2 separate regions of the Homo sapiens genome follow, and region 1 is linked to region 2. Evidence: fine-mapped expression QTL. A gene starts in region 2. The other region holds a variant in brackets. All regions are shown on one strand. Distances are between the middles of the regions.

Region 1 (4,397 bases), 56 kb after region 2:
GCTTTTTCACCCCCTAAAAACCAATTTGTGCTTGCTCTCGGAGAATGTGTATGTATAAGAAAGAAAAGGGAGAGGAAGAGCCAACGGCTTGGGAGCAGCCGTCAAGATCACAGCTGGTCGGGTGCAATGGCTCATGCCTGTAATCCCAGCACTTTGGGAGGCCGAGGTGGGTGGATCGCCTGAGGTCAGGAGTTCGAGACCGGCCTGGCCAACATGGTGAAACCCCGTCACTACTAAAAATACAAAAATTAGCTGGGCATGGTGGCACACACTTGTAGTCCCAGCTACTCAGGAGGCTGAGGCATGAGAATTGCTTGAACCCAGAAGGTGGAGGTTGCAGTGAGCCAAGATGGTGCCACTACACTCCAGTCTGAGTAACAGAGCGAGACTCGGTCTCAAAAAAAAAAAAAAAAAAAAGGTCACAGCTAACAGTTCGGGATATGGGGCCACAGACAGAAGGTGGTACAAAATAAAGGGGAAGTGGCATTTCATCGGCAGCAGGAGAAGCCTTGGGGAATGAAGTGGAACTAAGCACTTGAAAACCACAGACATCTTCCCTCAAAAAAAAAAAAAAAAAGTGGTTAAATGAAGGGGGAGGTGAAGGGGGAGGGACACCAACCCAAATTCTGATCCATGGCTTCTTAACAAATAATGCTTAACATCTGACACTGTTTTTAAATATAACTTTGCAACAAGATGGTTCTTGCTTTTTTATTTCTATTCCTGGAATTTCTCCTCCCCTCCTTTCTCCTCCTCCACAACTCATCTTTTTCTATTGAAGGCCATGTCTCTCTCTCTCCCCTCTTTCCCTTTGCCAGTCTCTCTGCTCTGCTCCTGCCATGCCTCTGCCTCTCTCCTCCATGGCTCCAAATCCCTCTCCCTCCTTTCTCTCCAGGTCTTCTGCCTTGTCCGTCCCTCTGTCTGTTAGCAACTCGACCTCCAGCCAAAGTCACTGAGAGATGAGAGATCTTGAGGGACTCAAAAGGGACAGGTTGAACACAATGAAGACCCAGGATTCCAAATGACCCCCAGAGAGACTGGATCCATCCGAAGGGCTTGTGAGGGTTCCGTGATCACTCCGACATGGCCCACGGAGTGTTTTATTCCAAGAAGCTCTGTCCCATCTCAGAATCAACCACACGTCCTGGGCCATCTCAACATGTGGGCAGTTACCTCAGAAGGCTTCAGGCCTGGCTAGATATAGTAGTTTGGCCAGATTTCCTAATCTCCCAAAGCCACAGAACAGAGCCCTGTGCACCCCATCCCTACCCACCCTCCACCTTCCTGCCCGTGTCCCAGCACGGGGCAAGGAGCCAAGCAGCGGAGCAGGGGGACACACAGGCTGGGGGAGAGACAGACACCACCTGTCTCCTGTAGTGTCTGCCACCTGCTCCACATCCACTGCAAACCCTCCCTCACTCCCCCACATACTCCCATCCTGATCATTTCTCTCACTGTCTCAGCTCAGCCCTCTCACTGGGGCAAGAGAAGAAAGAATCAGATCCCTGAGCCACACTTTTTGGGTCTGGAGTACAAGGTAGGGTCTAAGCCAAAAAAGAAAAGAAAAGAAAGACTCCTGGTTAAAAAGAGTTCTCTGCTTCTTTTATGAGATCCATTATGTTCTACCTGGAATTACATCTTTTCTGGTACAAGTATCGTCTCCTTTGCTAGGCTGTAAGAATCTTCTGGCAGAGCAATCTTTGGATTTATTTTTCTCCTGAGTCCTATCATCACTTCTAGCACCTGGGTTTTTCAAGCTTCCAATAAATTAGATTCAAAATAAATCCTACAAGTTGCTAGTGATTTGAGTTGTGTTGACTGGTACTAATATCCTTGCTAATCATGGTATGAGGGAAAAACTGCTTAATTGCTTAATTCCACATCTCTGTGTTGACAATTTTCTTAGTTTTATACCAGGGGTCAACCAACTACAGCCTGCAGGCCAATTCAGGCTCACTGCCAGGTTGTGTACAGTCCTGCTAGCTTAGGGCAATTCATTTTCAAATAACTGTTAAAACTCAAAAGAAAGATAATACTTTGTAACATGTAAAAACTGTATGAAATTCAAGAGTTTTAGGGCCAGGCACGGTGGCTCACGCCTGTAATCCCAGCACTTCGGGAGCTGAGGTGGGTGGATCACCTGAGGTCACGAGTTCGAGACCAGTCTGGCCAACATGATGAAACCCCCGTCTCTACTAAAAATACAGAAAAAAATTAGCCAGGCATGGTGGTTGACTGTAATCCCAGCTACTTGGGGGGCTGAGGCAGGACAATTGCTTGAACCCAGGAGGCGGAGATTGCAGTGAGCCGAGACTGCACCATTGCACTCCAGCCTCGGCAACAAGAGCAAAGCTCTGTCTCAAAAAAAAAAAAAAAAAAAAAGAAATTCAAGAGTTTTAGTGGAACACACACACACGTGGACACCTCTGCAACCTTTGGGGAATTGACCTCTGCCTTCCCTTTCCTGATCACAAAATTGAAATAACGTGATAAAGGAAATAATGATAGGAAATAAAGCCCTATCTCAAGGGCTGTTTTAAGGCATGAATGAGCAAATGAGTATAACATGTGTAGAACAGTGCCCACTGTTTGTGAACACA[C/T]CATAAACGTTCTTATCTCCATTGCTGTTATTTTTTCTACAGGTGGACCTTCAGGGGATCAAAGCAAAGTTCCAAGAGAAGTATCAGAAGTCTCTCTCTGACATGGTTCGCTCAGATACCTCCGGGGACTTCCGGAAACTGCTAGTAGCCCTCTTGCACTGAGCCAAGCCAGGGCAATAGGAACACAGGGTGGAACCGCCTTTGTCAAGAGCACATTCCAAATCAAACTTGCAAATGAGACTCCCGCACGAAAACCCTTAAGAGTCCCGGATTACTTTCTTGGCAGCTTAAGTGGCGCAGCCAGGCCAAGCTGTGTAAGTTAAGGGCAGTAACGTTAAGATGCGTGGGCAGGGCACCTTGAACTCTGGCTTAGCAAGCATCTAGGCTGCCTCTTCACTTTCTTTTAGCATGGTAACTGGATGTTTTCTAAACACTAATGAAATCAGCAGTTGATGAAAAAACTATGCATTTGTAATGGCACATTTAGAAGGATATGCATCACACAAGTAAGGTACAGGAAAGACAAAATTAAACAATTTATTAATTTTCCTTCTGTGTGTTCAATTTGAAAGCCTCATTGTTAATTAAAGTTGTGGATTATGCCTCTATCAGCTGCTTTTCCAAAGATTGTCTTGATAAGTTTGGGCTCTTCTCTGGGAAATGTATGACTTGTGAAATTCAAACCTACATTTTTTAGTGGTCACTAATCAAGGCTAGTCATAAGGAAACAATTCACTTGCTTTTGTAAACTGTAACTAAGGGTAAAATTCCCTAATCTGCTACCTGGTTTAACTGGGTTTTCTTCTCTAGACATTTGACCCACTTGAGTCTTCCCTCTGATCTTCAAATACAATTAAGCTGAGCAAAGTGCCAACAAGATCAAGATCAATGGTCTACCTCTGAAGTGAATTGGTTCCACACCAATAGATTCTGTGTTCCAAAACTTTAGTCTCATAGCCACGTGTTGCTAGACATAGAGGGATCTGTCAAGAGAACCTGGACACTTTGGCCCAATAATCATAGTTGTCATTCATTGGCTGATTATTTGTGCCTGACACTGAGTAGTCCAATTTCATTCTTAATCCTCCCCACAGCTCTATGTGGTTAATATTACTCCCAATTATCAGTTGAGGAAACTGACACATTAAGTAACCTATCTAAATTCATTTACAAGTGCTGTTTTCACACTGCTATAATTACCGGTAAAAAATTACCAAGACTGGGTAATTTATAAAGAAAAGAGGTTTAAGTGACTCACAGTTCCGCAGGGCTGGGGAGGCCTCAGGAAACTTACAATCATGGTGGAAGGGGAGGAGGCACGTCTTATGTGGCAGCAGGAAAGAAAGAGTGGTGAGCGAAGCGGAAAGAGCCCCTTATAAAACCATCAGATCTCATGAGAACTCCCTCACTGTGACGAGAACAGCATGGGGGACACAGACCCCATGATCTAATCACTCCCACCAGGTCTTTCCTGGGGATTACAATTGACACATGAGGATTACAATTTGTGATGAGATTTGGGTGGTGACATAGAGCCAAACCATGTCAACTAGCATTTCAATCCAGGGCTGGCTGACACCAGGAATCATGCTACTAACTGCCTTAATTGGAAAAATCAGTTGAAGTACATGGGAATGGGTCTGTATTCATTCATCTGCTTAGTTCCCTACTATCTGCCAATCACTGTGGTGTGCTCTGAGGATACAAAGACAAGTAGAACACTGACTCCCCTTGGGGCAGTTCATTCCCAGGTCAATAATGTCTCTTTTATTCAATAGAATGCTGTAAGTGCATTAA
Region 2 (4,397 bases):
ATACTGGATGTTGGACCTGGCAGGAGGTGTTGAATCATGGGGGTGGATCCCTCATTAATGGCTCGGTGCCATCCCTTTGGTGATAAGAGAGCTCTTGCTCTGCGTTCACACATGATCTGGTTGTTGAGAAATGTGTGGCACCTCTGCACTTCCTCTCTTGCTCCTGCTCTTGCCATGAGACATACTGGTTCTCCATCACTTTCCTCCATAATTGTAAGCTCCCTGAGGCCCTCCAGAAAGGAAGCACCATGCTTCCTATACAGCCTGCAGAACCATATGCCAAAATAAAACCACTTTTCCTTATAAATTACCCAGCCTCCGGTTCTTTCTTTATAGCCATGAAAGAACAGCCTAACACACCCTTCCTTCCTTAATGTATGTCAAAATCAATTCCAGATGAATCAAAGATATAAGCCTTTGAAAATTAAGCCATTAAAAGAACTTGGAGGAACACTTATGCAAGAAGATTTAAGCATCTTAATGCAGAAATGGTTTTTCTAAGCAAGTCAAAAATAAAAGACTGATATATTTGAATACATCAGAGCTAATACTTTCTTCACATATATACCCTCAAAACAAACAAAGACAAAAGATAACAAACTGGGGAAAAATAATTGTTACACTTCATGAAGGCCTAGATTTTATTATAAATAAAGTGTTTTACAAACAAATAATGAAAATACTAATAACTCAAAAGAAAAATAAAGACCACAAACAAGCAAACCACAGAAAAAAATACACAAATGGCTTTAAAGAAATGGGATATACAATTTCCAGGATATCAAATGAAAGAAATGTAAATTTAATAAAACACCATGTTTTTATCTTTGAAGTTGGCAGAAATGACAAAGTTTGACAATATTTAGTGTTAGCCAATATGTAGGGAAAATCACACTGGTATATTCATATAGTGGGAGTGAAATTTTCATTTTTTTAAAGTAAGCCTCATGGATCAGCTGGTCTTTAAGAGTGGTCCAGCATTTTATGTCAGTGTGGAGGACAACTTGGCAACAGCTATCAGAATTTTCAGTGCACATAGTCTTTAGCCAGCAACTCTATTCTAAGATTTTATTCTACAGATAAGAAAGCACAACAAAGATGTGTATGAGATATTCATGCAAAAGATCAAAAACAATCTAAATGACCTTCAACGGTAGACTGATGAAATAAGGTTTGGTTCATATCCATAACAGTTGACTACATGGCCACTGAAAAAGAAATGTGCCAGTGTCAAATATCTCTTTAGTATATGAAATATACACTATATTAAGTGAAATAAGCAAGGCACAAAAAGACAAATATCACATGTTCTCCCTTATAACAAATATCACATGTTCTCCCTTAAATGTGGGAGCTAAAAAATTGATCACATGAAGGTAGAGAGTGGATAGATGGAGAAAAGAGACTGGAAAGGGTGAGTTGCGGGGGAAGAGGAGAAGTGGGTTAAAGGGTACAAACACACACTAAGATGGAAGGAATAAATTCAGTGTTGGATAGTAGAGTACGGTGGCTGTACTCAACAGAAATCTATTGTACTCAGGCAAACACTCTCAATACCCTGACTTGATCACTACTCATTATATGCATGTAACAAAATGTCTTATGTACCACATAAGTTTGTACAAATAAAAAAAGAAACATGTTGTAATAATCTCAGAAAAAAAAAGGAAAGACAAGAAATATGCAAGGCATGGAACAGAATACATTGTACAAACCCATTTGGTGAGGAAGAAAAGACAAGTTGGATCAAGATAAACAGAGAGGTAGGTAACTAGACAGGCAGACCGACGGACATAGCTGAATATGCATGGACCACTTCAGGAAGGACTCACGGAAAACCTCTGGGGGAAGGAAAAAGGAAGTCAGTAGGCCGACTTTTCACAGGACCTTTATGTATTATTAGAAACAAATTTACCATCTGCACATATTACTTTTTAAATTCAAAACTCAGTAAAATTTTTTAAATGATCTAGTGTAATGCAATGTAGCCTTCGAAAAATTCTCTGTAATAATAATAACAATGTTAGTAAAAAATAGTAATATTTTTCTATTTGGTTAATGCTTTCATTACTAAAAGGCATAATATTTTAAATGAACACCAGAATATGAAAGAATAACTCAACAATTCAGAAGTGAGGCAGGTTTAGTCTTTTAGGTGGGAAGAAGCTATTCAACTTTAAAAGCCTAAACTTTATTTATTAAGAAGTATATTATTTTAAAAACATGGGTACCAAGGAAACCTGGGCAGTCTAAGTTTATCTGTAGCTAGAGCCACTCCCTACCCATCCCCAACAATGTATTCAAATTCAGTGCCAAAAGTTACTTATTAAACACAAGAGATATTATGTCCGGGGGGAAAACTGTTGTAAACTTTGCCTGTAGGAGGACTGATCTCTTGATGAAATACAGAAAAACCATCTCAGAAAAAGGAAAATGGGCAATCGTCATGTAAGTACTCATTGCCTTTGGGAATTGGTTTTAATTTTGGTTAGCATGTGGAAGAATTTAAACTATAAAATCATGACTGATACTTGTATACTTTATCACTATGGTTACCCTTTAATATTGGTTTTAGCAACAGCATACCATGCTTTTAAAATGCATTGAGGCCGGGTGCGGTGGCTCACACCTGTACTCCCAGCACTTTGCAAGGCCAGAGTGGGCGGATTACTTGAGGTCAGGAGTTTGAGGTCAGCCTGGCCAACATGGTGAAACACTGTCTCTACTAAAAAAATTAAAAAAAAAAAAAAAGTTAGCTAGGTGTGGTGGAACATGCCTGTAGTCCCAGCTACTCAGGAGGCTGAGGCAGGAGAATCATTTGAACCTGGGAGGCGGAGGTTGCAATAAGCCGAGATTGCACCACTGCACTCCAGCCTGGACTACAAGAGTGAAACTCCGTCCCAAAAAAAAAAAAAAAAAAGCACTGGGGATATATTATTCCCTTATTGGCCAAAAATCTCTTAAGAGGGGCTAAAGAGAAAGAAGTATGTAAAATAAGGCAGTAAATAGTGCCTTGCAGAGAGCAAATGGTTAATATGTATCTGTAGAATGTATAACTAAAGCTGTTAGTTTGTAGCAAATTTGTATAAAACTTCATAAACTAAGCCCATTCAGAGTTATGTGGGAAAGATAGGTTCATGTTGCAAATATTAATAGACCAAGGTAAATACTCATGTAAGTCCACACAACTTGGATTGCAAGGTGAAAATATTCCATTATTATTTCTAAACATCCACATATTTGCAAATATCCATGGAATGGACTTAATAATTTACATTTCTTTTGAAATGTTTAGGCTCCTGAATAGTGTGTCTATAAATAGTTAATGACTAAAAACTGACTAAAACACTACCTTTTGGAACCAACTACACACAGGACAGATCAGAGTTGAATCTTGAATATTTTTTACATTGAAGTATATCTAAAGCTATTCCAATACAAATCTTAATAAGGTTTTGTGTACCTGCTGTAAATTTCCACAGCAAGAATGATATATTTCATGCACACTATGAGCAGAGAATAAAACTCCAAAACTTTCTGTAAACTGTTACTTTGTCTATAAGGTTTTTCCTTCGCTATATATTCAAGCTGCACTCAGATGTTTACAAACTTACAAATATATTCTTAGGAAAGGCATTGTTTTTCAAATCATCTACAAATAGCATTTTCATACCAGCAGAGATTATGAGCCATCCGTTCAGTGTATCTTTCAGAGAAACTGAAGCCTATTTTTCAAATATTTCTGATAGATGCAGAGGACCCCAGGAATAATCAATGGACCCTGCATTCACAGCTTAGGAGGATAATTTTGTCTTTTGAAAGTCAACCTAGGGAGCAGCTGGCCTTTAGGAGTGGACCAGCATTTTTATGTATTTTTTTTTAATCCTCAGAGCCAGTCGTACACCCTCTCAGAAGGCAGTCAACAGTTGCCTAAAGGGGACTCCCAACCCTCGACAGTCGTGCAGCCTCTCAGCCACCCATCACGGAATGGAGAGCCAGAGGCCCCACAGCCTGTAAGCACTTTATTTTCCCCCCAAATCATAGGTATGACCCCTGCTCTGTCATGGGGCCAATATGAGCCCCCAGTGATCTGTCATGTTGGACCCTCCACCAGCCACCAGCCATCATCAGGTGTGACTTCCAAGCAGGGAAATCTTTCCCTGCAAAAAGTTTGTTACTGTATTTACAGGTAATGTAAAAATGAACTCTTCTAGGGGCTTAGTTTCTGTTCCCAACAGTGTCTCATTAACAACTCCTTGAAATCAAGCACATGAGGCTACACCAGGACCACTATGACATTTCAGAAAATAGTAAAGGAACTCAACATGTGCACAAAGAATGAATACATGTAAAAAAGTAAATACAAAATCTTTTTAAAGAACAAAAAACTATCCCAG

What was found. PIP is the estimated chance that this variant, and not a neighbour inherited with it, causes the effect.
Region 1: its variant is the best candidate, but not a certain one, in a credible set for the expression of ANXA13 in tibial nerve (GTEx, PIP 0.67).

Annotation. Positions count from the first base shown.
Region 1 is chr8:123,679,605-123,684,001 of GRCh38, reverse strand. ANXA13 (annexin A13) reads left to right here. Exons shown (of 11, transcript NM_004306.4): 11 at 2,643-3,208. The coding sequence ends at 2,762. Among named protein-coding and RNA genes, the nearest start is that of KLHL38, 28 kb to the right of the region's middle. The variant C/T (reference allele first, on the strand shown) is at 2,601.
Region 2 is chr8:123,735,371-123,739,767 of GRCh38, reverse strand. It overlaps ANXA13 (annexin A13), which reads left to right and starts at 2,375. Exons shown (of 11, transcript NM_004306.4): 1 at 2,375-2,448. The coding sequence starts at 2,434. All of the region lies in intron 1 of LOC105375739 (a long non-coding RNA gene), which reads right to left.